Linked DNA regions of Homo sapiens: regions 2, 3, 4, 5, 6 and 7 are each linked to region 1. The links come from fine-mapping of genetic effects on plasma protein levels. Region 1 holds a variant in brackets. A gene starts in each other region. All regions are shown on their reverse strands. Distances are between the middles of the regions. Region 1 overlaps SETD2 (SET domain containing 2, histone lysine methyltransferase). Region 2 holds the start of KLRD1 (killer cell lectin like receptor D1). Region 3 holds the start of KLRK1 (killer cell lectin like receptor K1). Region 4 holds the start of DRAXIN (dorsal inhibitory axon guidance protein). Region 5 holds the start of KLRF1 (killer cell lectin like receptor F1). Region 6 holds the start of CD86 (CD86 molecule). Region 7 holds the start of GZMA (granzyme A).

The links. PIP is the posterior inclusion probability: the model's chance that the variant is causal. The UK Biobank Pharma Proteomics Project read protein levels with antibody pairs (Olink). The fine-mapping took linkage between variants from a reference panel, not from the people measured, so its PIPs are less certain.
Region 2: KLRD1 starts here. The variant in region 1 is fine-mapped to the plasma level of the KLRD1 protein (UK Biobank, PIP above 0.99).
Region 3: it holds the start of KLRK1, and the variant in region 1 is fine-mapped to the plasma level of the KLRK1 protein (UK Biobank, PIP above 0.99).
Region 4: it holds the start of DRAXIN, and the variant in region 1 is fine-mapped to the plasma level of the DRAXIN protein (UK Biobank, PIP above 0.99).
Region 5: it holds the start of KLRF1, and the variant in region 1 is fine-mapped to the plasma level of the KLRF1 protein (UK Biobank, PIP 0.99).
Region 6: CD86 starts here. The variant in region 1 is fine-mapped to the plasma level of the CD86 protein (UK Biobank, PIP above 0.99).
Region 7: it holds the start of GZMA, and the variant in region 1 is fine-mapped to the plasma level of the GZMA protein (UK Biobank, PIP 0.92).

What each region holds. Positions count from the first base shown.
Region 1 is chr3:47,044,712-47,048,711 of GRCh38, reverse strand. It overlaps SETD2 (SET domain containing 2, histone lysine methyltransferase), which reads left to right. Exons shown (of 21, transcript NM_014159.7): 16 at 2,091-2,225. Among named protein-coding and RNA genes, the nearest start is that of NBEAL2, 67 kb to the right of the region's middle. The variant A/T (reference allele first, on the strand shown) is at 2,365.
Region 2 is chr12:10,305,420-10,309,499 of GRCh38, reverse strand. It overlaps KLRD1 (killer cell lectin like receptor D1), which reads right to left and starts at 1,630. Exons shown (of 6, transcript NM_002262.5): 1 at 1,416-1,630; 2 at 20-112. The coding sequence starts at 1,422.
Region 3 is chr12:10,387,970-10,392,049 of GRCh38, reverse strand. It overlaps KLRK1 (killer cell lectin like receptor K1), which reads left to right and starts at 2,009. Exons shown (of 8, transcript NM_007360.4): 1 at 2,009-2,107; 2 at 3,175-3,279. The coding sequence starts at 3,240. KLRC4-KLRK1 (KLRC4-KLRK1 readthrough) reads left to right here. Exons shown (of 13, transcript NM_001199805.1): 6 at 159-215; 7 at 3,175-3,279. The coding sequence starts at 3,240. The region is part of intron 3 of KLRK1-AS1 (KLRK1 antisense RNA 1); the gene reads right to left.
Region 4 is chr1:11,689,392-11,693,471 of GRCh38, reverse strand. It overlaps DRAXIN (dorsal inhibitory axon guidance protein), which reads right to left and starts at 1,762. Exons shown (of 7, transcript NM_198545.4): 1 at 1,619-1,762. It also overlaps a transcript of MAD2L2 not described here. RefSeq lists enhancers at 2,447-2,954, 2,955-3,464.
Region 5 is chr12:9,825,144-9,829,223 of GRCh38, reverse strand. It overlaps KLRF1 (killer cell lectin like receptor F1), which reads right to left and starts at 1,743. Exons shown (of 6, transcript NM_016523.3): 1 at 1,595-1,743. The coding sequence starts at 1,679.
Region 6 is chr3:122,053,356-122,057,435 of GRCh38, reverse strand. CD86 (CD86 molecule) reads right to left here and starts at 2,074. Exons shown (of 7, transcript NM_175862.5): 1 at 1,933-2,074. The coding sequence starts at 1,946. It also overlaps a transcript of ILDR1 not described here.
Region 7 is chr5:55,101,502-55,105,581 of GRCh38, reverse strand. It overlaps GZMA (granzyme A), which reads right to left and starts at 2,936. Exons shown (of 5, transcript NM_006144.4): 1 at 2,830-2,936; 2 at 1-108. The coding sequence starts at 2,899.

The DNA of each region.
Region 1 (4,000 bases):
TGGCGAGGAGGAGGGAGGAGGGTTGTTTATACAGCTGTAGAATGTGTTTGTATTTTAAGATAAGTGTTATAAAAGAGTTAAAAAGTTGAAAAAATTTGTTTATAAAGTAAAAAAGTTATAGTAAGTTACAGTTAATTTATTAAAAAAATGTTAATAAACTTAGTGTAGCCCAAGTGTTTATAGTCTACAGTAGTGTACAGTAATGTCCTAGGCCTTCATATTCACTCACTCACCACTCACTTACTCAAAGCAACTTCCAGTCCTGCAAGCTTTGTTTATAGTTAGTTCCCTATACAGGTGTACCATTTAAATTTTGTTTTTTTGAGACGGCATCTCGCTCTGTTGCCCAGGCTGGAGTGCAGTGGTGCCATCTCGGTTCACTGCAACCTCTACCTCCTGGGTTCAAGCGATTCTTCTGCCTCAGCCTCCTGAGTGGCTGGGACTACAGGTGCATGCCACCATGCCTGGCTAATTTTTTGTATTTTTAGTAGAGATGGGATTTCACCGTGTTAGCCAGGATGGTCTCGATCTCCTGACCTCGTGATCCGCCCACTTTGGCCTCCCAAAGTGCTCGGGTTGCAGGTGTGAGCCACCGTGCCCCGGCCTAAAAAATTTTTATACTGTATTTTTACTGTAACTTTTCCATGTTTAGATACACAGATACTGTTAAGTTATAGTTGCTTACAAGTCTTTATTACAGAAACATGCTGTACAGGTTTGTAGCCTAGGAACAACAGACTATACCATATAGCCTAGGTATCTAATAGATTTGTGAAGTACACTGTATGATGTGTAAGTACCTCATACACTTAGTAGGTTTGTGAAAGTACATTATATGATGTTACCACAACAATGAAATCTCCTAACAATGCATTTCTCAGAATGTACCCCCCTTGTTAAGCAATACATGACTGTACATTTTCCTCTCAGGCTTTGTGATACTATTCTGATGGTAATTCTGCCTTAACAATTAATGTTTTTCAGTCTGGTTTATTATCCAAGTAGATTAAGCTGATCCAGAATACCAAATTAAGTGTTCTTTTCCTTTTTCCTGTGTCCTGTCAGTAATTATTCATTCAGAAACCTGCTAGATAGCTGCATTGCCTATTCAGACTACTTGAGTTTTTACTGGTGTCATTTGGAATTATATTTTGTATTTTGAGTACTTAGCATTTGATGTTTCTGTAATCATTTTACCTGCTAGAATCTCAGTCCATAGGAGCAAAATCTCTCCTTAAGCACAGGATACATGTCTATTCAATTCCTTAACAGTCACCACCTCTTAGGACAGCAAGGCTATTTTTCAGTCTTCTTATCACCTCTTCTTATTTAAGCAGATTTTCTATGCTTGAGAAATAATTACAGAGTAGGTTTAAGCCCTAGCATAGTACTTATTTCTTATGAAACTCCAGGCATGGGCAGTACCTGGTTTTGATGGTGGTCAGCACTAAATGAGATGATGTATGTTAAGGGGCTTCTTGCATCATAGAACACTGTATAAATTGGTGTGTTGTGAGAATTTCAGATGCATTGATTCTGCTTTCTGCCAAGGGGTTTTATCATAGAAGACTACAAAAAGCTAAAACAAAAGGTAGCTTAAAATTTGATCATCTTATTTACTATGATTCACACCCTTTGACCTTTTCTGATCCAAACAACCTGTTTGTTATTACAAGTTGGTAGCAAAAGCCTTCCTGAAAAGAGCAGCGTGGCATTGTTTCTTGGATATCCCAGGAGCAGCACTTCATTGGTTTTTGCTTATAGAAACTGTCCACCTGTTTAATTTTCAATGTCATTCCAATGTCATTGAAAGCTAAACAGTTGGAGAATTTCTATGACCAAAAAAAAAAAAGCTTTTATTTTCTTATGATAAAGTAAAATCAAAGTAAGTAAATGAATAGGGAATTAGTAAAAAAAGAAACTTTGGGGTTTGAAACAAAAAATTGTTTTGCACATTTATGTCCAAATATATAAACAAAAAATTTTAAAATGTTATGGGTATATCTTTAAGATTGTGCCAACTTGGAAGTCAGTCTGTTTATTAAAGTGACAAAAGCTTAAATTATTGATTTCTTCATTTTATCTTTTAGAGTTATGCCCAGCCAAGTCTTCAGTATATCCAGGGGCAACAGATTTTCACAGCTCATCCACAAGGAGTGGTGGTACAGCCAGCCGCAGCAGTGACTACAATAGTTGCACCAGGGCAGCCTCAGCCCTTGCAGCCAGTAAGAAATGTTTCAGTTGTTAAAACTCATTGGCTGTCTACTTTGTCTTTGGAAGGTTTTCTTTTTGGTTTGGATTTGTTTTGGGTTTTATTTTTGGGTTTTTTTTTCACGTGTTCTTTGTTTTATTTTATTTTATTTT[A/T]TTTTTTTTTTGAGACAGAGTCTCGCTCTGTCACCCAGGCTGGAGTGCAGCGGCACAATCTTGGCTCACTGCAACCTCCACCTCCTGGTTTAAAGCGATTCTCCTGCCTCAGCCACCTGAGTAGCTGGGATTACAGGTGTGTGCCACCACGCCTGGCTAATTTTGTATTTTTAGTAGAGACGGAGTTTCCCCATGTTGACCAGGCTCGTCTTGACCTCATGACCTCAGGTGATCCACCCGCCTCAGCCTCCCAAAGTGCTGGGATTATTTATAGGCATGAGCCACCACGCCCGGCCCGTTTTTAAATTTGTGTAGCCACCAAATTCACCTGAGCCACCCTGAGGGCGTGAACTCAACCATTTTGTAAAAAAAAAATTTTTTTAATTCTGTGGAATTTATAGTTCCGTTAATACATATTTTGCTCCGCACCTGTAGTCCCAGCTACTCAGGAGGCTGAGACAGGAGAATGGCGTGAACCTGGGAGGCGGAGCTTGCAGTGAGCTAAGATCGCGCCACTGCACTCCAGCCCAGGTGACAGAGCAAGACTCCATCTCAAAAAAAAAAAAAATGCTCCTAGGATCCTTTTTATTTGTTGTTTACCCTGACCTTGTATTTTTATATTTTACTATGAATTTTTGAAGTAATAATTTTTTTTTTTTTTTAACTCTGTCACCTAGGCTGGAGTGCAGTGACACGATCTTGGCTCACTGCAACCTCCACTTCCTGGGTTCGAGTGATTCTCCTGTCTCAGCCTCCTGAGTAGCTGGGACTACAGGTGTGCATCACTGCACCCAGCTAATTTTTGTATTTTTTTTTTTTTTTTTTTTTAAGAGATGGAGTCTTGCTCTGTCGCCCAGGCTGGAGTGCAGTGGCATGATCTCGGCTCACTGCAAGCTCCGCCTCCTGGGTTCTCACCATTCTCCGGCCTCAGCCTCCTGAGTAGCTGGGACTACAGGCGCCCGCCACCACGCCTGGCTAATTTTTGTATTTTTAGTAGAGACGGGGTTTCGCTGTGTTAGCCACGATGGTCTCAATCTCCTGACCTCGTGATCTACCCGCCTTGGCCTCCCAAAGTTCTGGGATTACAGGGATGAGCCACTGTGCCCAACCTTAATTTTTGTATTTTTAGATACGGGGTTTCACCATGTTGGCCAGGCTGGTCTTGAACTCCTGACCTCATGATCCGCCCGCTTCAGCCTCCCAAAGTGTTGGGATTACAGGCGTGAGCCACCACACCTGGCCGAAGTAACAATTTCCTAGACCAGCTATCTATCAGTATTTACCGCGTACAGGTTGAGTATCCCTTATCTGAGCTTCACGGGACCAGAAGTATTTCACATTTCAGAATTTTATGGATTCTGGAATATCTGCACTATAATTACCACTTGAGCATCTCTAATTTGAAAATGTATAGCTTGAAATATTCCAATAAGCATTTCCTTTGAACATGGCCTTTGAGTGTCATGTCAGCACTCAAAATGTTTTGTATTTTTGTATTAGGGCTGCTTAACCTGTACTAGAATATGATACTGTACTAGTCACCATGGACTAGGCATGTAGAATTGTGTGATATACTTCACTATACATGTTGTACAATGTTTAAAAAAAGTTTTTTATATGATGTTTAATATTAAGA
Region 2 (4,080 bases), not on the chromosome of region 1:
CTTGCTTAGAAAAACTTACAATTTTTCAACAAAATTCCCAACGTAGACATCAACGAAAGGCATATTATCCCTAAGGTCCCAGAAATTAACCTCCACAGAGTGGTCTTAAACACTGTAGAGAAAGACAGACAGAGTAATGACTTAAAGAGCAAACTCAGGAGCTGAGTTCTTAAAAGCAGAAACTAGTGACGGAGAATCCACAACATTCTTTCATTTGATAACGGAGTCATCTTGCCAATAAAACACTGAAGACTTTCCAATCGGGACTTCACCCAATACCAACATTTTTATGTGATGTATCTTATTCTTCAGGAAGATTATTCAAACATTTTCTTCTCTACCAGCTCTGTTGCAGTAAAGTGAATTTACCATTTATTTTAAATTGGCAGAGGTGCTTAAAGATCTGGAGGTAGAAGATATTAACAAGCACCACGTTGTGTTTTATGGACTTACATAACAGGCATTTATTTTTATTCTCTCAACAAAATCACAAGATAGATAGTATGGTTCTCATTACATAGATGAGAAAACATAAGGTCCAATAATAATGTTATTTTCTCAAGGTATCAAAGCAAGTAAGTATCCAAGTCAGAAATCACATGAAAGTGTGTCTAGCTCAAGAATCTTTCATTCAACGTAGTCTACCATTGTCACAATAATACTAGTTGAGAGTATGCCCTCTCCTCATCTCAGTGCAGGTTTTGCTCTGATAAATGTCTAGCTGCTCATTGGTTCGTAGAGATATTATAGGGAAAAGAAGACATAGGAACATTCTGGACTTGGTGTGATAACTGATAACAAATTGATGGGTAACAACTTTGAGGCCTGGCTTCATTTCACAGTATATTGAACATACATAAACAATCCTTTTTCCCCTAGAACATTCCATTTGTTCATACTCAAAATTACTTGCTTTTAGGCCTTTCACCTAAAACATTTCAACATTAGGAGATTCTGTGCTAACGTGAACACACTCTCAAAGAGTGATGTCATTAACAACAGTACAATGTGTCAAACTGTTCATTTGTGTAATTTTTGGATGTCACAACATAAATAGTCAATTAAAACCTTTTCAGCATTGTGTCATTAATATTTGGCATTTTCTATTGCTATACTAGAACACTGTTGCTCACAATTTAACCAGGCTAAAGTTCAGTTCTCACTCAGAATTTAAAGGTAGCCCTGTCAGAAACCACTCTTCAAACCTGTGGAAAAAACTTCATGAAATCATGTCTAAGTTATACAATGAAGAATCAGGAAAATATAATGAATGTGGAAAGTGCTAATGCATGAAAATCCTAAAAACATCCACTGTTAATCATGTCCTTTTCTCTTAAAGCATTACCCCAAAATCAGCCAATCCAAGAAATAGCTTTTCTGGTTATTTTTAATTTAGTGACTGAAATCACACATACCTGCCATGAGAAATTATGTTCCAAGAGCGAAGTAGAGAAGGCACGATGTGTACTTTTTCAGAAAGAACAGCGTTGAATTGTTGAAGCTGAGCTGGAGATTAAAGAATCTGAAAGTTGAGTATGAAGAAATTTAGCAAAAATAGAGAATGAAAAATTGTGTATTTAAATGATGTTCTTGAATCATCTATTGGTGAGACATGTATTATAGTGTGAATAAGAAGCAGTAGAATCACAAGCCTCTGAAGTGTTCCAGGAACCACAATACAGGAAATTCTCACAGTACTTTTGCAATATTAACACTTTGGCAAGGACTAAAGAAGGTGAGAGGAGGTCAGAGGGAGTTTTGTTGCTGTTTTGTTTTTTATTGTTTGAAAATCAAATTCATTTTAAAGGGTTATCTGGAAAATGAAGGAAATGATGGGCAAACCAAAGGTAAATTTACTTAGCATAACAAAATTACTTACAGAATTTTCCTCTTTTAATAATAAACATTTATTATTTACCTTGTACTTAACACAATTTAAAGCACTTGGCATATCTTAGCTCATTTATTTCTGTAAATGGCTTGATAGTAAAGATATATAAATATCTTCAATCTATCAAAGAGAAAACTGAGGCATACAGAGCTAAGTAATTTGCCCAAGGTCACATAAATTGGGATTTCCATGTCTCACTCTGTTCTTCTGATCTCTACCTAATTATCCTGGCCACGACAGGCAAAGTTCAAAAAAGTAGAACTGGATGGGTTTCCCACTTGGACGCCTCATTCACGTTAGCCTTAAAAGCTTTTTTCAACACCTCAATTTTCATTTTCTTAAAGTTCTTTAAGCACGACTTCAGCTTCTTTATTTTCCTTATTTTTACTAATACATTATTATATTGTTTAGTGTGTTATCTAATTCAGATACTATACTGATACTTCGATATACACTTTTTCATCTACAGAAGAGTAACCTTGTTAATAGGAATATCAAATGTGGAACAGGTCAAATTTCCAATGTGGAAGAGATTGGCTATAATAAGAATCTTGAAAGGAGAGATTTCGATCCATGATTTAGTATCTGGAAATACAATCTACCATGCACCCCCATACAAAAGCAGACACTCAAATAAACGTTTTGTGTATTATATTTTGTATATTGTTTATGTTCAAGCATTATAATATTACTATAGATAAACCCTTTTGTAAAAGATGGGCTTTCAACCAACAACAGAAAAAAATGAAAGAAAAGACTACTTTGACTTCTCAGTTTTTATGAAGTCAAAACTTTCCATCTTTTCAGTTTGCATTGTGTGCCTAGAGCTGCTTTCATTGCACCAACAAATTTGTTGAGCTATAAATCCTCACTGAAGAATATAAGCGTAAAATCTACTTCATCCAGACTGTATGCAAATCTTAGTTGAAGTGATTTATTTAAAAATCCTTTGCTTACTTGAAATCTATTCATTTTTAGTGTTAGAAAAAGCTGGTCTGGAAGAAACCTGTCTGATACTATTTTTCCCCCATGTAAAATTGCCTCAAAATATAGGAGATTAGGGGTTTGCTTTTAGTTTTTCTCTTGAGAGAGTACAAATTTATGACAGAATGTGCAATAGGGATTATTACTACACTTTCATTACTAACACAACCACCTTTATTTGGAAGTTAGAGGTTCTAAGTTTTTAGAACCCTGTTTGGTGAGAATACGTCCATCAGTCATTGTCCTTTTTTTCATCTTAGTTCACTGACTTAGAAATAAAAATCCAACAAATACAAGTTTACTTCAAGAACTCCAGGCTTAAATATTTAAGATACCTAAACACACACACACACACACACATACACACACACAGTAAACATATATGTATATACCTCTTTAACTCTTTCTGAGCTGCCAACTCTGATTGTTCTTTTTTTGTTTGTTTTTGTTTGTTTGTTTTTTGAGATGGAGTCTCTGTCACCCAGGCTGGAGTGCAGTGGCTCACTCGGCTCACTGCAAGCTCCGCCTCCCGTGTTCACGCCATTCTCCTGCCTCGGCCTACCGAGTAGCTGGGGCTACAGGCTCCCGCCACCACGCCCAGCTAATTTTTTGTATTTTTTTTTTTTAGTAGAGACGGGGTTTCACCGTGTTAGCCAGGATTGTCTCGATCTCCTGACCTCGTGATCCGCCCGCCTCGGCCTCCCAAAGTGCTGGGATTACAGGCGTGAGCCACCGTGCCCGGCCTCTGTTCTTTCTATTTATTTTTGTACGTAGACAGGTGAATGATTTCCATGTACTGTATCTCTCCCACTCATCTCCACTTGTTCCTGAAGTTATCATTGCCTCGCCTATGTCCCTTGGAATATTTGGGGAACTATGGCCAACTAGTTATCTGTATAGCTGTATCTATGGGTTCTTTTTTTCTCCAATAACTGCTGAAAGCCTTGCTGTTCTCAGACATGCTAATCCGGAAGTGCTGAATAATCATCACCAGAATGGGCGTCAACAAACGAATCTTGTGATTTGCTATACAGTCCAGCAGTCTCAGCCCTAAAGTCAGGTAATTCTGAACATTGTGTTTTGCCCAGTTCCCAGAATTACTCAATAGTGTTATGTTCCAGTCACCTCCTCTAGAAGCTAGATTAAGAAAATAACCTTTATTGCGTTCCACTTTCCCTTTCCTATTACATTTCCTTTCCTACATT
Region 3 (4,080 bases), not on the chromosome of region 1:
TTGTTTTAACCCGACATACAGGACCCATTTTAGAATTTTCTTCTTTAAGAATCCTTTCCACACTCTGTCAGTTGGTTTAGGGACCTTTATATATGACAATAAAACTCTCCCTGGTGCTTAGCTTTATCATGGTATTTATTTCAGAAATCTTCTTTTAGGTATGTGTGGGGACTTCCCAGTTGGCTGTAAGTTGCCATTTGAACTAAACGAAATAGGTAGGATATTCAAATGTTCTTTTTTATCCTATTCCTATCCCCCTTTTCTCAATTCTGTATTTAAGAGACAATCTCTATTCAATCGAAAACTACATATATAAAAATAACTCTTCAGGAAATTGTGATTCAGGTTTTTCCCATAAAAAGCCTGCATTTACTCATTTATTCATTTCCTTTCAAAAACCAAATATTTGTTAAAATGTAGTTGTTAGAAAATATCAGCCTATATTTCCTCTATATAGATCTATTTTTACTATATAAAATAGCTAATAGAAAATGTTGATTAGCTGAAAAGAATCTTGGTATGTCAGAAAATAACATATTTTCTTCAACTTGTTTTATATTCACCTATCTTGTTTAATTTTGAATTTGTTTTATACTTATTCATTTTATATCACCTAAACTAAAAAGTAATTTCCAGCTGGGTGTGGTGGCTCACGTCTGTAATCTCAGCACATTGGGAGGCTGAGGCAGGAGGATCACCTGAGGTCAGGAGTTCGAGACCAGCCTGACTAACATGGTGAAACCTCGTCTCTACTAGAAATACAAAAATTAGCCAGGTGTGGTGGCACATGCCTGTAATCCCAGTTATTCTGGAGGCTGAGACAGGAGAATTGCTTGAACCCAGGTGGCGGAGGTTGCAGTGAGCCGAGATCGCCCCGTTGCACTCCAGCCTGGACAACAAGAGTGAAACTCCATCTCTTAAAAAAAAAAAAAAAAAAAGTAATTAATTTCCATGTGGGCAAAAACTTTCTTTTGGATTGTTTACTTTGACATTCTCAAGATCTAGAAAAGTGCATAGCAAATAGCATTCGCTAAAGAAAAAAAATGTTGAATAAATTTATTGTCCAACTTTAACACATCACCACATGAAAGCTGTTTTCCTTCCTTATATTTCAGAGTTTTAAGATTAATAGCTTTGGTTTTTGTTAAAATGTTATAATGTGTTCATCTTATATTACTTTATATGATGTCTTATGTTAGTATTTTAAATTAATAAACATAAAATATATATTTAGCTTATCTTGTTCATTGGTATCAATTCATATATTATTCTTATGTATACTGGGGTATATATTTAAGTTTCTAATTCTCCTGCATATGATGTAGATATGACAGAGATGCAATTTCATGTTTTTTATATTAAAATTTAAAAATTCCCAGGACTAATTTTTTGTAACTTAAAGGCCAGTGTGATAGTAACCCAGGACAAATTATTGAATAGGAGCTAATTTCCCACTTTATCTGCAATGTTACCTTATATTTTTTAATCTATGCACATGACTTTTTCTTGTCTGTATTTTTACCCTTCTCAATTTGTCTATCTATGCCCCACATGCCACTTTGCCTTTATTAATACGGTTTTAACATAGGTCTTACTATCTAGTAAAACAAGGCTCCCACATTTTCTTCATCTTCAATTGTGACTTTCCTAGTCTTGACTTTTGTAATTTAATGTACATGTAGAATTCTGCTTTGTAAGTTCTACAACAAAACCTGAGGTATTAACTGGAATTGAATTGAATCTCTAAAATATTTAGGATTAAATGGCATCATTTAAATTCATCATTTTCAAATCCTAAAATGTTATTTAAAATAATGGCAAAACTACAATTACTTTTGCACCAACCTAACATTTATCCAACAATGGGTGGTCTTAACTCTTTTACCAAATTAACAATATTTTTGTAGTGATAAGGCGGAAGTACTGTGGTTTATGTTTTTCCACAGGAAGATGAGATTATAATATTTGTCACATCTTTCTCAAAGATAGAAATTCACTAAGTATCTCCACTTTCAATTCTAGATCAGGAACTGAGGACATATCTAAATTTTCTAGTTTTATAGAAGGCTTTTATCCACAAGAATCAAGATCTTCCCTCTCTGAGCAGGTGTGTGTATGTGTGTATGTGTGTGTGTTTATTATTCAAGATATGAGAAATTATATTTCAACCTCAAAAAAATAAAAATATTTACACTATAAGGTAATTCTAATTGTTTCTTAGATGCTTGAATAGAACTCCTGAGGATACGGAATGCTTATCATTTCTGATGTATATTCTATCACTGTATCTGATGATAGGTAATTAGGATATACTTATTGAAGAATCAGAAGTTGTAATATTACTATAAGAAGAAGCCTTGTCTCTAAGCAAAACTAGAAAAATGAATCTTTACATTTAGGATGAGAAGAATTGAGATTCAATTTAAATTGTCAAATTTTTGAGTTTTCTGATGCTGTAGGGGGCACTTACCTTTGATACACATCTTTACATGCAAGGTGAAACAAGTTATATCTGTGCTTTCCAACTATCATAATCAAATATGAAATAGCTTTTATTTTTGAAATCTAAGCACTATGCTTATTTATTAAATGGTTTTTTCTGGAAGCTCTGCTGTGCATTGCTAAGATGTTACTATATAAACATGTGAGATTAGTTTTGTTAATGATGATGGTGATGATAATTTGTTGATGATGATGATATGGGCACGTTGGATTAAAATGCACTAGAAAAGGACATTCAACAAAAGTGCATATAACTTACCTGAGTTTAGCTTGCAGAAAGAAAACTAAATTATTGCCAGATAAAATAAACAACTGGAAACACTTGATCTTAGCTAAAAGGCCAAGAAGCAATAAACGACTATAAACAGAAAACTGGGTGTGTTGTTATCTAATATCAGTAAAGTAAAATATTGGTATTAAATATCTCAATGTAGGTGAATTAATAGGTTCATTATATTGTTATGACATTTTGAAGTAATTGGCGATTATTTTACAACCAAGAGAAATGTATAAAATTAATTTTGCCTGGCTTTATGTGAATTGTCATTTCTATTCTTTTCTTAAAGGCATGCACAGGGGAAAAGTTTCTGCATTTTACTTTTCTATTCAAAATATTTTATCTCACCACGGGAAAGAGAACAAAAAACAAATGCCCAGTTTTATTTTATTCAGGAATCCTTTGTGCATTGAAGACTTTAGATTCCTCTCTGCGGTAGACGTGCACTTATAAGTATTTGATGGGGTGGATTCGTGGTCGGAGGTCTCGACACAGCTGGGGTATGTTTTTACCACATAAGTGTGTAGTTTTGTTTTTATACAATTTTAAGATACCAAGAATTTCATACAAGCATATAAGGCATAGGCAAGCAATTTACTCTGATTCTTTTCATGTTCTATTTATGTTGATTTCATGTTATGTTCATATTGTATTTTAAATCAAGTCTTCCAAAACTTAAAAACTTTTTTCCCTTTATTTTATTAACTATATTATGGTAAAGTCGCTCACAACTTGGGACAGCTTGAAATAGTGAAATAGATGTGGAGTCAGACTTGAATTTTACTCAAACTTTTACCGCTCTCTAGATTTGAAGGGTCAATTTGCAACCTCTGTGTAGTTTAGTTTAGTTTCTTTTTCTATCAAATACAGGCATGAAACATTCCATATTTATCTTAGATTTGTGTAATATTCAAATCAACTGACATGTATGTTAAAGCACTTTTTATCCTAAAGGTGTTTATAAATTTATAACTTATTCACAGTTGGTAACATTATATTAAATAAGCTTTATGATTTTGGCCATCTCTAGCATTCAATTTCTTCATCCATAAAGTGATACCTACTCTCTTTACTCCATATGTAAAATAACTGAGTTAGGTATTACATGCGCAATCAATGTCTAATTTTACCTATAAAATATAATTCATATTATCATTTAATTTATAAAAGGCTTTTGTACAACAAACCCCCGTGACATGAATTTACATATGTAACAAACCTTCGCATGCACCCCTGAACCAAAAATAAAAGTTTAAAAAAGGCTTTTAAGTAAATATTAATCATCAGTAAATAATTAATAT
Region 4 (4,080 bases), not on the chromosome of region 1:
CCAGACTCCTGGAGTGGTGTGTCACATGTTATGACCACCTAGACAGTGGTCAGGGGGCTTGGGCAAGCACACAGCAGGTCCAGGAGCCAGCAAGACAATCCCCTCAGAGGAAAGGAAGTGGCCTGTGAGCTGGTGCCGCTATTAAAGGCATCAAGCCAAGACTGAGGTTCAGAATTGGGGGTGAGTCACCGGACGCCTTCTGATGGGTGATCAGTTGTTGGCAACACCAGCTCAGCCACACTGATCTCATTTTGAAAAAAAGTGACCCATTGGCCCTGATTGTTTTAGCTGATTTTAGGACAAGCAAAGAGGAGGAGAGAGAGAAAGAGAAGAGTGCTTGCAAGGGTGTGGACGCCTGTATGGGCACGAGGAGGTGAAGGTGACAGGAAGTGTGATGGGGGAAGAGGCTGTGGTGGTGGGGTTACTCTGAAGTGTCTCTAAGCCTTGACTTTGAGATCCATTTCTGTGGAGCCCCCTGTCCCCACCCCATCCCAGGTCTGTAGACTCCCCTCCCCTCCCCTCCCTTCCTCCACAGGGTGTGTGAACCAGCACCAAGCGGCACCCCACAATTTCCACACACATCCCTATAGGTAGGGACTAGCACCATCCCTGTTTTGTGACAGGAACACTGAGGCTCAGAGAGGTGCATTCCTTTGTCCGAGATCACTCCCAGAGCCCCAGTGTACCCGACTCCAGATGCATAGTACTGAACCGGTTCCAGACACCAGTGTGTCACTGGGCTGGGAGGTGGGCAGCGTGGAGGGAGCATATAGGGCAGGGGAGACCACCGGGCGGAGAGGATGGCCCAGGGAGCACCCAGCTGAGGAAAGCAAGAAAGACTTGGCGGGAAACCCCAGCCCTCTCTCATCTCATACCCCGGCCCCGAAGGCGGCTGAGACCCTTGACGAGCGGACGGAGAAAAGCCAAAAGCCGGCGGTGGGGAGCAGGAGGGACAGAGCGGGAGACCACAGGCGAAAGACCAGCGCCGTCGGGGGAGCCAGGCTGAGTACCTTCCTGGGCACAGATGGGACGGCGCGGGGCCACCGGCGGTGCTGGTTCCGGGCGCACTCAGCGACCCCGGCCACACACCCCAGCCTCCTGGGCGGCCTCGAAAGGGGCTGGAGGGCACGCCCGCCAGCTCTGCCCGGGGCTCAGGGAGTCTTCGAAGACTTCTTCCAACGGTGGCGGACTGGGGCCCCCTGCCTGAGAGACCACCCGGAGACTCAGAGACAGAGAGACAAAGGGAGACTGGGTCAGGGAGAGAGAAGGCTAGTGCCGAGGAGAGTAGGTGCGAGCCGGGACCCCAGAGGGCGGCGAGGGCGCGCGCGAGGCCGAGTGTCAGAGCGTGGAAAAGTGGGCGTCCAGCGGTAGGTGGACGGATGGGGAGCCCGGGAGCAGAGCCAGGGTCCGTGGGCAGACGCGGCGAGGAGAGGAGGCGGCGGAAGGACTGGCGGATAGACGGGTCCGAGGGCTGGGAAGGAGGCAGCATCCTCACTTCCAGCCTCGGGACCCCGCGCACCCCGCCCCTGGGCGCGCCAGGTAGCCCACCTTTGTCCGGGCTCGCAGCCAGGTGGGGCGGGAGGGGCGGAGCCAGGGGCGGGCCGAGGCCGTGCCTTACCTGTCCGGCCGGCGGGTAGGGGGAGGAGGGGCTCGGGGCCGAGCGCCCGCGGGAGCCGAGCGCAGCCGAGGGCGAGCCGCGGAACGGGGCCGGCGTGGAGAGGTGCGCGGGCAGCCGGAGGATGTGCCCGGGCTGAGCGGGACTGGAAGGAAGGGGGAGTGGGCGGGCAGGAGGGAAGGGGGCGGGAGCGCGGGGAGGGGACAGAGGAGGGGCGGCGGGTGGCGGGCTCGACTGCCCCCAGCCGAGGGGCAGCCCCGGGGCCGGGCCCGGCGCGCACCCGGCCAGCGCGCCCTCGCCAGCTGCGCTCTGAGTTCTGGGCCAGCTCCCCAGAGGCCTAGGCGCCGCCGCCGCGAGGGCGCGGGGCAGACAAAGGAGGCAGACAAAGGCGGGCGCAGCCCAGCAGCCGTGCGGGCACCGGGCGAGGCAGGCCCACTCCTCCCGGTGCGTAAGAGCCGCCTCGGCGCGGCCCAGGGCGCGTGGGACGGGAGGGGCTCCGGCAGTTGTGGCGCCTCTGGAGCGGCCCCGCGCAGGGCGGGCGACAAAGGGCCGCGGCGGGCGGTCCTCGGTGGACCCCAACAATGGAGCGAGGCTGCGCGCTCAGCTGCGGCCGCGTCTGTCAGGGCAGGGGCCCGGGGCCACAAAAGGATTATTCCGCCTAGACTGTCAAAAGGGACGGAAGAAATGCCCAGGGCGGGGGAGGCGGGACGGGGAACGGCGGGGCCTTTGTAGCCGCAGAAAGTGCGCAGAGTGGGCAGGCGGGGTTCTCCGAGAGGTCGCTCCTGGATGTAGGGGTACAAAGGGTCTTCAAAGTGCTACCAGCTCACCTGGGGCGCTGACGGCGCACCTGTGCCCTCTTTCCCGGTAGGGAAGGGAGAAAGACAACCGCCCCAATACACACACACACAAACACACACACACACACACTCACACGCGGCGCGGCTCTCGCCACGCCCCGTCCAAAGCCGGCCTGAAGCTTCTCAGACCGGCCCAACCCGGACAAAGCCAGCGCTGGGGCCGGCTCATCCATCACCGCGCGGGGCGCCGTGTCCTGACGACCCTGGGAGTCTGAGAATGCTGGGTTATGGGTCCCGTGCCTCCCATAACTCACGACGGGGTCGGTGGGGCCACGGACGCTGCAAAGATCAAAGAGCGATGGGGCCGGACTCCCATATGTGGGAAGCAGCGCTCCCACCTGGCGCCCTGAGCTCGCCAGGTGGCTTCCATTTCGACTGTTTTCTTTCTCCAGCGTGTGGCAAATTATGACTTTGAGGTTTTAGAACACAGTTCTGCCGTCAGGCTAAATGTCTGTGTTCCTCTTCTGATGCCGTCCCCTATGACCTCGAGCAAGTCGCCTGACCTCTGAGCTCATGATTATACCTAAATTTCAGTGTTCTAGGCGTGAATGCAGTGCCCTGTGTAAGGAGATAACGTTTCTAAGGTCTGGCCCATAGGAAATGCTCCTGTAAAATTAGCTGCCATTGTTACCGTGATATTATTAGCTTGGTGGGCACCAGGATGGATTGATGAGAACACTGAACTGTTTATTCACTGAAAGGTTTGAGTCATCCATCCCATAAATACCTATTGAACACCTACTATGTGCCGGCACCGGAGGTACAGTAGTAAACAACATGGACAAGAATCCCTGCCCCCATGGAGCTCAGATTCTAGTGAAGGAGACAGAAGATAAGTGAACAAATAAATATAAATGATGTCAGGTGGTGATTAGTGCTATGAAGAAAAGTAAAGCACATTACAGACAAAGCATGAAGGGACGAGGTGTTGTTTTACATAAAGTTATTAGGAAAGGCCTCTTTGCTGGGGCAGTTCTTTTGGCAAAGAAAAGGAGGTAATGAGCCACGTGGTTGTGGGGAGAAGACTTGCAAGCAGAAGAGCCACTGCAAAGGTCCTGGAGCGGGAGTGTGCTTGGTGTGTTTGGTGGAGAAGAGTCAGTCTGGAACAGAGTGAGGTGACATCAGACAGGGAGCTGGGATAGGACCATGTTGTTACAGGAAAGGGGTCCTGACCCAGACCTCAGGAGAGGGTTCTTGGATCTCGCACAAGAAATAATTCAGGGCGAGTCCATAGAGTAAAAAGTTTATTAAGACAGTAGAGGAATAAAAAGAATGACTACTCCATAGACAGCACAGCACCAAGGGTTGCTGGTTGCCCATTTTTATGGTTATTTCCTGATGATGTGCTAAACAAAGGGTGGATTATTCATGCTTCTCCCCTCCCCCCGCCTTTTGTTTTTCTTTTTGAGAGGGAGTCTTGCTCTCACCCAGGCTGGAGTGCAGTGGCACAATCTCAGCTCACTGCAACCTCCACCTCCCGGGTTCAAGCAATTCTCCTGCCTCAGCCTCCCGAGTAGCTGGGATTACAGGTGCACACCACCATGCCCGCTAACTTTGTGTTTTCAGTAGAGATGGGGTTTCACCATGTTGGCCAGGCCGGTCTTGAAC
Region 5 (4,080 bases), not on the chromosome of region 1:
ATTATTATAATATTATTTCTATAGTGATTCTGAAACTACTACATATGTATAGTGGGATAGAGCAATTATGTAATTTCTTACTATCACTGGCAACAAAGGTTTTTCAATATATGAGAAAAGATTTACAAATATGTCATCACAAAATTAAGTTAAATGAATGAACATCATAACCCCAAGGCTCACATTGTCAATCTAATTCACATAAAATACGTCTTACCTCAAGCTTTAATAAATATTAGCTAAAGGTACAAGACATAAATATTAGTATGTGTCACTTAAATATCTGGGAGCCGAAAATCTGCACATTTTTGCTTCAGAGAGACATTTATGAACAGAGTGTGGAAAAAAGTCTGCAGAGAAGTCACTACATGTTGTAGTCTTTCAGGTTTAATATCTCTAATTTCCAAAAATGAAATAAAAATTGAGTGTAGGAAGTAAAGACTTGAAAATATGGGAATCTAAAAATTCACATGGAAGAGGCAATAAATTTCTTATACATAGCACGTATGTAACTCTAAGATGAATCACTGATGGATGATACTTGTGGAAGGACTCAAGAGATAAGTAAAATTTTCATGGGTGAAGTTATTAAAAGAGAAATATTTAGAAAGCAACAGAACAGAACAGACAGTCTCTATAACTGTGATTATTTGTGTCTTTAATTTCTGCTTATCTCTTTTGCCAAATCACATTAAGGTGGCATGATGGAATTGCATTGTGTATGGAGGGTATGCTTGAAGTAGCAAATTAAAATGTTGATTGCTGGTGTATAAACTTTATTTTGAGTCAACTTGGTGAAAAGCATAAAGTTTTTGAGAAGTTGAATTAAAAATTAGTATTAAAGGCTGGGCGCGGTGGCTCATGCCTATAATCCCAACACTTTGGAAGACTCAGGTGGGTGGATCACCTGAGGTCAGGAGTTCAAGACCAGCCTGGCCAACATGGTAAAACCCCATCTCTACTAAAAACGCAAAAAATTAGCCAGGCATGGTGGCGGGCACCTATAATCTCAGCTACTCAGGAGGCTGAGGCAGGAGAATTGCTTGAACCTGGGAGGCAGAGGTTGCAGTGAGCCGAGATCATGCCATTGCACTCCAGCCTGGGCAACAACAGTGAAACTCCGTCTCAAAAAAAAAAAATAGCATTAAAACACCATATTCTATGAATGATAAGGAGGTGAATGGCAGCAAATATTCACTAATTTGAAATTATTAATTTTAATTGAGTATGCATATTTCCTCAGAGAATGTCCTTAAGAAATTATATCAGACAAAATATTACAAGTAAGTGTTAGTTCCACATTGATAAATGGGAGAGAGAGAGATTATCTCATAGTAAATTTGTAAGATTAAATGAAGGAACATAGATAAAACATTCTGTATAGTGCCGGAAACTGGTGTTTCTTAAATGGTAAGAGAGGTTGTTATTTTTAAATCATTATTAATATTGAAAGAGAGGACAGGTGAGAGAGATACAGAGACGGAGAAAGAAAAGCACCCAAATACTGAAACAGTCCAATAACACAATGGAACAGGATACGGGAAACTACCATGTTAATTCACACCAATTGAAAAAATGAAATTAAATTCCATACCTTTAAATGTAAGTTGAGATGTTTGGGCAGAACTCCTTTTCTTTGACTGTACATTCAATGTCATGTATCTTTCTTCATCTTGCATCTTCAATGTGAGTGAATGTGTGTGTATACAGGTATGTTTTGTTTTATTAAGTATAACATGAAATGAGGAAAGAATAATAAATCTGCTGCTAATCAGAGATGCTCCTCAAATTGTCCTTTCACAGTACATATGAGGGTTCACAGTTTCACTTATTTGTGAAAACCTCAGAGGAAATGTTTTCTTTTTAAAAGTTGCTTTCCCATGACATAGATAACACATAATTTCTCAACTGTCCACCACATATTGAATTGAATATTCTTTTGAGTGCTTTACAAATTTCTCTTAATTTACCCTTAAAGTCAAGGGAATGGAAATTATGCCCCTTTTTGAGGTGAGGTTAATAATATATAGCTGCCTTTTGTTATAGCCTAAATATTTATATCATTTGAATTAGCCTCCCTAACATATTGATATTTAATTTAATAATTTGCAATTGCCAAGCAATTAAATTCTTTATCCTAAAACAATATTGTTTATAAATCATGCTAATAATTTAACAGTATAATTTGATTTTTTTTAACTTTTAGGTTCAGGGCTACATGTGTAGGTTTGTTATATAGGTAAAATCATGTCACAGGGGTTTGTTGTACATATTATTTCATCACCCAGGTATTCAGACTAGTACTACATAGTTATGTTTTTCTGATCCTGCCCCTCCTCTCACCCTCCACCTTCAAGTAGGCTCCGGTGTCTGTCATTCTCCTCTATGTGTACATGTGTTCTCATCATTTAGATCCCAATTATTAGTGAGAACATGTGGTATTTGGTTTTCTGTTCCTCCATTAGTTTGTTAAGGGTAACGGCCTCTAGCTTCATCTATGTTCCTGCAATGGACATCATCTCATTCTTTTTTATAGCTGCATAGTATTCCTTTGTATATGTGTATCACATTTTCTTTATCCAGTCTACCATTGATGGGCATTTAGGTTGATTGCATGTCTTTGCTATTGTCAACAGTGCTGCCATGAACAGATGCATGCATGTGTCTTTATGATAGATTTATATTCCTTTGGGTATATACCAGTAATGGGATTGCTGGGTCAAATTTCTGGTTTTAGGTCTTTAAGGAATCACCATGCTATCTTTCATAATGGTTGAACTAATTTACACTCCCATCAAAGGTGTATAAGTGAACCCTTTTCTCCACTACCTCATCAGCATCTGTTATTTTTTGACTTTTTAATAATAGCCATTCGACTGGTATGAGATGGTATCTTACTGTGGTTTTAATTTGCATTTCCCTAATGATTAGTGCCTACTGGAGGATAGAGGGTGGGAAGAGGGAAAGGATCAGGAAAAATAACTAATGGGTACTAGGGTTAATACCTGGGTGAAGAAATAATCTTTACAGCAAACCCCCATTACACAAGTTTACCTATGTAACAAATTTGCACATGTACTCCCAAATTTAAAATAAAATTTTAAAAACACAATATACCCTTTTAAATAAGATAAACTATTAATTCAAGGAGAAAATATTTGACAAATTATCAGAAATATATTTGTTGCTTAATGACAAAAGTAAAAGGATAATACATTTTTGTGTTATTTTTGTTTATTTTTACTTGCTAAATTTTGTTCTTTAATTTATAATTACAATTTCTTTGGCCATTATTTGACACTCCAAATGGATAAGAAGTAAATTAAGATTGATAAATAAAACACGAAAAGTATCTGTTCATGTCCTTAGTCCACTTTTTAATGGGGTTGTTTATTTTTTGCTTGTTGATTGGTTTAAGTTTCTTACAGATGCTGGATATTAGACCTTTGTCAAATGCATAGTCTGCAAAAATTTTCTCCCATTCTGTAGATTATCTGTTCACTCTGTTGATAGTTTCTCTTGCTGTGCAGAAGCTCTTACAGTTAATTATTTTGTTTGTTTGTTTTGTTTTGTTTCACTTTTGTTGCAATTGCTTTTGGCATCTTTGTCATGAAATATTTGCCCATTCCTGTGTCCAGGATGGTAATTCCTAGGTTATCTTCCAGGGTTTTTTATATTTTGGGGTTTTAGACATAAGTATTTTATCCATCTTGAGTTGAGCTTTGTATATGGTATAAGGAAGGGGTCCACTTTCAATCTTCAGCATGTGGCTAGCCAGTTATCTCAGCACCATTTATTAAAAAGGGAATCCTTTTCCCATGGCTTGTTTTTGTCAGCTTTGCTGAAGATCAGATGGGTGTAGTTGTGCAGCACTATTTCTGGGCTTTCTGTCCAGTGGTCTATGTGTCTGCATTAGACCATTGTGTTCCAATGGTCTATGTGTCTGCTTTTTTTTTTTTTTTTACCAGTACCTTGTTATTTTGGATATTGTAGTACTGTAGTATAATTTGAAGTTGGGCAATGTGATGCCTCCAGTGTTGTTCTTTTTGCTTAGGATTGCCTTGGCTATTTGGGCTAATT
Region 6 (4,080 bases), 75 Mb before region 1:
ATTGTTCTACAGTGGAATTTTAAATAATTACATGGTATTCCATTATGGATGTTCCATAATCATCCAATCACTTGTTTTTAAACACGTAAATTGTTTCTAAGATTTTCCTTATTAGAAACAATAGCAAGAAAAATATCCATCACTAAAACTTTACAAACATGTATTATTATATCTTAGAATAAATTCCTAAAAGGTGAATTGCTTGGTTAAAGGGCATATACATTTTAAAGGCTTTTGATATGTATCACTAGATTATTGTCCAGAAAGATGATATCACCACTAGTGCGCAACTAGGGTACAAATAATCCTCCCTTCTTAGCAAGATAGAGGGTTCTTGATTGCTTGCTTTTTAAAACTTAATATTTATCTCTTTGATAGAGAAAAAATGATACTTCACTGTTGTTTTAATTTGTATTTATTTCATCTCTTATGAGAACAGACATTGTTTAATGGCTATTACTGGTTCATGACCAATCTTCAGGCACTGTGAAACAAAAGGAATCTTAACAAGTTCAATATAGACAGCAGCCTATGGTTTTTTAGACCTCTGCAGACAGTGCTAGCATAATTAAGTAGTATCCCCTCTATGGTACCACAAAAATTATAAATTTTGAAATTCTTTTTTTCTTCATACAAGTATAACGCTTCAAAATTCCACTGGAGCAAAAGGAATCTTTACTGGAAAATTAAATTTTAATCTTCTGAAATAAAAGCAACAAAGCTTTTTCTCAAACCAGTAAGCACTGGGTAGATGAAAGTTACTTCGATTTTCAAAGAACAGTAATTATAAATACATAGTGACGGCCGGGTGCGCGGTGGCTCACGCCTGTAATCCCAGCACTTTGGGAGGCCGAGGTGGCCAGATCACAAGGTCAAGAGATCGAGACCATCCTGGCCAACATGGTGGACCCCGTCTCTACCAAAAATACAAAAATTAGCCGGGCGTGGTGGTGGGCGCCTGTAGTCCCAGCTACTCAGGAGACTGAGGAAGGAGAATCGTTTGAATCCGAGAGGCGGAGGTTGCAGTGAGCTGAGATTGCGCCACTGCACTCCAGCTTGGCGACAGAGCGAGACTCTGTTTCAAAAATAAATAATTAAAAATAAATAAATACATAGTGACTGGCGCCAGCTGCCACCACCCAAGAGAAGGGCGGGTGTGACTCCTTCCAGGAAGTCTCCACAGCATGGAGAAACCTTCTGGCGCACCACGAAGCGGGCAGGAAAGATTTTAGCTCTACCCCTTATGAATAGTGTGAACTTGGGCAAGTTTTTTAAGCCACAGTTACCCCATCTGTCAAAAAGAATGATGATGTCTTTCCAAAAGTCATTGTGAAGAATAAAATTCAATGAAATAGCACTAGTAAAGTACCCAGCACATCATGCATGTTCAATACATGGTAACTAATTTAATCACTCTACCTCCTTCCACTACCCAACCCTGCCCAGAATCTCCCATGGCCTGATTATGACATATTAACTGAGTTTTGCATTTTCTCCTTATACCTCTTTTTTCTCTTTCTTTTTCTTGATCTCTCTCCCTCTACCTTCTCTATCTCATTCCTCCACCCTCAGACCAAACTGACCCTGGTAGACAAAAAACATATTCCCTGTTATTTGTCATTCTTATGCAGATATTTTAAAAATTCCTGATTCTTCACTAAAATCAATGACTGTAACATTCAGTATTTGAATAACAGATTTACAAAACCAAAATTAGGCACCTAAAAATATATATAACTACCACCAATGAACTGCTTTGGGCATTGCAAATAATTCTTGCCTTTATGTGCCAAAGATCTTTTGTAGAAAAAGAAAGCTTCTCCACTTAGGAACTAAGTGAAGGACACACATCAAAGCACCATCTTCAACCTCAGCCTTTCACTGCAGTCACAACTCATAACTTCTCTGCAAAGAATAAGAATTATTACTCACCACTGGGGATCCATTTTGGCTGCTTCTGCTGTGACCTAATATCTGGAAATGACCCCACTCATCCGTGTGTCTGTGCTAGTCCCTGTTACAGCAGCAGAGAAGCAAAGCTTTCACCCTGTGCAAGCCTTCCTCGGCAATGACTGTATACCTACCCAGCTAACTTTCTTTAAGAGAAGCTGTTCCTCTTTTCTCTACAGATTTTGACCACACTTGAGGAAGAAATTTAACCCTTTCCTTGCAGTTTAAACTCATTGACGTAGGTCTATATGTATTAAAGAATATATAATTCAGTAGCTTGAGTTCCAGACATGACGTTAAGATGAGCCTGAATAAAAAATCTCCCCTCTTGAAATTCCCTCAAAAAACCTAGAAAATAAAATAATTAGAAAGAGAAAACAAACCTCCGCAGCAACAAAATAGAATAAAGAGGCATTCTACAGATTTTGATAAGATAATAAAAAGTGATTTATTGTGGATGTGGATTGGGAGTGAGTAGCCACCTAACCCTGCCAATTTCCACAACCAAAGTGTGGAGAGTTTCACTGAGCTGGGGTGGGGGGATGGGAGATGGGGAGATGTTCTGTAAGGACTGCATAACCAAGGAGGGCAGACAGAAGCTACTGCTTTTATTATTTCATTCCTACTATAGCCAAGGATTACATTGATGAAAGCGAATATTCTGAAACAGAAGTCTGAAAAAAAGGCAGCATTATAAAATTAATAGATGTCCCTAAGAGACAAACATAGAATTAATCAAGCAGAAACTATACTAGAAGATATTTCCTCGTATGAATTAAAATGGGCATCATCTAGAAACTCAAACTGTTTAGTGTATCAAAGCAAAAGTTATGAAAATCGATTCTCATCCAGACAAATCATTTTGAACATTTTAAATTCCAAAGGCAAAGCTAAAAACAAAATGAAAACAGAATGACTACAGAGAAACAAAAAACAACTTGGCATCTTACTCAACCCTAAATGGCAAAAAACAACAGAACAATATCTGCAGAATTTTGAATTAGCATTATCTACCTAGATAAGATGCCAGTTAAGTGTCAAGTCAATAGAAATATGTCACCAAGCAGGCAAGAAAACAACAACTGCAACAGAAATACCACCACCAAGACAGCCTTCCTAAATAAATTATTTAAGGATATATTCCAGAATAATAAATGAATTAAAATAGCCTTAAAATGGAGAAGCCATGGCTGAAAACACCAGTGCTGAGCTTTAAAGCAAGTTAAACATGGAGAAATAAGGCTAAATAATTATAAATTAGTTTAGACCAAAATGCTAAATAAGAAAAACTTATTAGAAGTAGATTACATATATTATTTCAAGGAAGTTTAAAAATAGCAGATGACATCACTGCTAACTAGAGCAAGGAAGCAAAATCAACACAATTATTAATCTTCAAATAAGAAGATAGAACAATGATTATTTTATCAACTTTGATAATTTCATCTGGATTTGAGAATTTTAAAAAATGAAGACAGCAATAATATAAGTTATCTATCTTCAAAATTATTGCAGAGCAGGAGTGCAAATAAAATAGTATTTATAACTACATAACACATCAGAAATAAGATGAGATAAAAAAATCCATGTAAACCTCATTTGTTATAAATATTAAATATTAAAGGTATGGGATGTCATTTTTCAGTTTCTTGGTAGCAGTGTACACACTCAAATTTCCATTTCTTGGTATCAATGCATACACTCAAATTTTTATTTAAGATAGCATAAGCATTTTCTCCTGTTATCATAAACTTTTTAGTAGTCATTAAATAGTACATTAATAGTACATCAAGTATACACTGTGAAAGCTGGCTGTAATGGCACATACCTGTAATCCTGGCTACTCAGGAGGCTGAGGTGGGAAGATTGCTTGAACCCAGGAGTTTGAGAACATCTTGGGCAACATAATGAGACCTTGTCTCATACACACAAAAAAGGTATATATTGTAGTAAAATTATCTTCCTAATATCAGACAGTTTTAGCTTTTAGTATTTTTATATTACAATTTTCTAATTAATATATTTAGTATATACATTTAGGAGTTTTTAGTATTTATTAGTTATCCATTGCTGTATAACAAATTATCTCAAAATTTATTTCCTTAAAACAATAAATGTTTAGGGATTGAT
Region 7 (4,080 bases), not on the chromosome of region 1:
CAATCAAAGCCCCAGCACAGATGGTTTTTCTGTCAAGACTAAGTAGGACCATGTAGGGTCTTGAATGAGGAGTTACTTCATTTCCTCCAATAATTTTTTCACAGACATCTGTTCAATGGAAAAAGACAAATCAGATTGGTGCTCACCCCCAAAGAGCTCTACACAAAGTCATGTTTCTAAGACCAGCCATGCTTTTTGCACTCAGAGAGGAAGTCTGGATGAGAGCATTTCCCCTGCTTTTACTCTATGTAGACCCGCAGACATCTGATGCAAATCCTATTCCTGTTGGACTCTAGGGTCCTGTTTTTCCACCCACAGAAGCGAGGCCATTGACTGTTCCAGGATCATTAGGCTGGATGTCACAAACCAGCAACCTCAGGCCCCAGGGCAGAAAGCTCTGCCTTGGTCTTTACCATCAACAGTTGCTGCAGGAAATGCCAGTGGTAGTGACAACCTCAAGTGCTCCCACCCTTTTTGGCTAACTATTAATTTGGGGGAAATAGATAAGACTTTTAGAAGCCTCATAACTTCCCTTTTAACCCCAAGCCATTGCAAAAATATAGCTTATGAACCGATATTAGCATCGTTTAGCTGTGACCCTACCCCTCAGTCCTTTGGTCATTATGAGACTTTTGGTTATTAAACTGCACTGTTCTCACTCATAAGTTAAGAAAATAACATCGATTGCACCTCCCCTTCAATCTCTAGACCAAACCATGGGGTTTAATCTAAGGTCTTTTCCAATGAGATAGGGAAGAGAAGAGAGAAGATACCATATGCCAAGAATTCTGCCTAAGTGACATTTCCTTGATGATAGTCTTGAAGTAGAGACCCATTGTTAAGGAACAGTGAGAACTAAACACAAGGCAAACCATACATGCAGATAGAGAGAACCTTATGTCTTAGTGATACACTCCGAGTGCTCCACCTCCTGCACCAGATGTTCTTGGATTCTCCCAAAATAGTTTTGCTGAGACTCATGGTTTCTTGAATAGGGCACAGTGCCTCTTGTTCCATAATTAGGACTAAGTCATTGCCAAATTCACAGGCAAGTATTAATGACAGCTATAGAAGCCTTTCGTAAGATTTGATGAGGGTAAGAGCAAGGAGGAGAGTGACCACATGAAATGTGGCTAGTGTGATTTGAAAAAGCAGAGGTCTCTGCTTTTAAAAAGGAAACTGGGAGGAAGAAATTCTAGGCTCTAGAAACAAAAGGGTAAAGAGCTTATAGAAACAAAAGACCTTCACCCAATCCCAATTTTCCTAGGGTGATTCATGTACAGATAGATTTCAACTGTGCCTTGCTTTGCTGTCTGTTCCTTATATGGGCCCACACTGCCCTCTCTGAACACAGGAAACAAAGAGGAGCACAGCAGGTTGCTTTTGTTGTTTTCCTTTGAAGAAAAGATATGGCTGGATTTATCTGCCCTGTGTTTTTCTGTTATGGAGGATTTAACATGCCTGAATATAGTCATACTATGCCCTGCTTATAACATAGCCAACCTTTGTCCCAAATGTCCTGCAGCCTTGTTATTTTTATATTTCTTCTCTCTCTCTCTCTTTTTTGTTTTTTTTTTGAGACAGAGTCTCGCTCTGTCACCAGGCTGGAGTGCAGTGGCACGATCTTAGCTCACTGCAGCCTCCAACTCTCTGGTTCAAGCGATTCTCCTGCCTCAGCCTCCTGCGTAGCTGGGATTACAGGCACGTGCCACCATACCCAGCTAATTTTTGTTTTTTTAGTGGAGACAAGGTTTCACCATGTTGGCCAAGATGGTCTCCATCTCTTGACCTTGTGAAACACCCACCTCAGCCTCCCAAAGTCTTCTCATATTTAGGTGCATAAACCAGATATGCACCTAAATATGATAAACCAGAGTTCTTTGGGAATTCCTGGCAAGGCAGGTTATTACATAAGTCCCTGCCTCCAAAAGCTGATGAATCCTGGGAAAAACCGTGGCTGGCTCCATATTGCCACAGCTTGAGAGTAGTCCTCACTTCCTAGCAGGTTCTTCAAGGGAAATCTAGAGCTCCCCAAGAGCTGTCACCCTTTCAGTGGTAATACCATGAATTATACAGCATTTTAACCCATGCATGCTCAACTCACACAAAAGCAGAAATATTGGTTACCATTTGGTAGACAAAAAATTAGCTTAATAAAAAATACTATAGCACACCCAAAGGGTTAATGAGGGAACTGGCCTCACGCCTTAATTTATTGCCAAAGAGTCTCTAGACCAGAGAAATAAGTATAAAAATTCTAATAATTCCTGATTCACTTTTGGTGTCTAGGTCAGATTTGTCTTAATTGTCTTTATCTATGCATTTTCTGCAGCAGGAAAGGCTGAGCTGACTAAGTTGCCACTATTCCTTTCCTGGAAGGTACTATTTGTTTTACGAACAAGAGAGTTTTGTTAACTCATTTTTACATTGTCCTTTTTGGCAATTTTCAAGTTACAAATTGGCAGCAATAAGCATTGGTGGTTCTGCTATCTTTTGCAAAATAATTATGAGAAGAAAAGATTTTTTTTTCTAAAATACAGACATATTTAAAATCCAAGAAAGAATGCTATTTAAAAAAAAAAAATAGAGACAGGGTCTCACTATGTCGCCCAGCCTGGACTCAAACTCCTGCGCTCAAGTGATCCTTCCACCTCAGCGTTCCTAGTAGCTGGGACTACAGGCATGTGCCATTGTGCCTGGCTAAACATTATAAGGCTTGGGGGAAAACATCTTCTTTCAGTATAGGAAGGTAATATTGCCAAAAGTTCATTGAAAGTCTGCTCCATTTTGCTTCATGGTCATAATGGAAATGAGAAGAATCAGTCTTACCTTCAGGAATTAGCAGGAGAGAAACGACAACTGAGAGAGAGGATGCCAGAAATCTATAGGAGTTCCTCATTGTGGCTGCTGTCCCACATCAATCAACCTGAAAATCTGTTTTCAGTTCTTAACTGCCTCTATCTATATACTGAGAGTAAAAAGGATGTGGTTTCCTTTCATTTTTTTTTTCAAGTTTCAAAGTTTAGCATTAGGAAACCAAATCCAAATAAGTGAGAATGGTGGATGATGGCTCACTGCCAGCAGGCAGGCTTTCCTTTGCTAGGACTGCTGAGGGGGGCGCTGGAATTCTACAGGGTAGGAGAGGGGCAAGGGACCTTGTTGCCATCAGAGTACACCAGGGAAGACTGTAAAGTGTCTCAGCTATGATTTTGAAGACGCTTTCATCATCTGCAATATTATCTGTAGTATCCATGACTGGAAACTCTCGAAGACTTAAATTAGAATTTTAATAAAAGTCCTCAAAATTGGTCACCAATCAAAATTCTTTCTAGCTGTCTCCTTGGGTTATATAAGAATTAGCAGGCCAAGTGCAAGCTGAGGACAGGAGGGAGATTTATTTACATAGAGGCTCCTGCCTGGATTTTCCTTCCCCACTTTGTGGTGAGTGTTTATTGTGCTCCTGCCTGGTCTGTGGCAGGTGTGGGAACATGGGCTGGAGGAGGGTAGGGGCTCTTGGCCCTTTTCAGCCCTCTGATTGTGCGTTCCTGATTGTCTAGTTTCACAACTTTAGATACTGAAAGTATCTCCGAGTTTCCCTCCCTCCCCGCCCCCCCCCGACCCCTGCTTCCTGCCTTTCTTCCTTACTTTCTTCTGAACAGGTTTAGGTGAGAAAAGAAGTGGGAGTCATTTTTGTTCCAATGTTGGGGAATGTCTCACTCTAAGAAGAGTCAACCTCAGTCCCTGGAGGAACAGTATGCAGTGTGCTTTCTATTTGAAATGAGTTCAGCTCTTTTTCTGAGCTGAGGATGTGGTCTCCGATACAATATACATGGTCAGATGTGCTGTCAGGATGTTGGGTACTGAACCAACCATCCCCATAGTTAACATCCTGATGACTTCAAACCTAGTGGTTACTTCTTTAGAAATCAAGTGACCTTAGAAGGGAGCCCTGCTGAGACCCCTGCATTTCTTTTTCTCAGATATTACAAGTGTATCAAAGGTTAATCATTTTCAGTAACAGCAGTGAGGACCCTGCTATTGGTTTTGGTGAGTAATTTTAGTGCAGACTTAAAAAAGTCA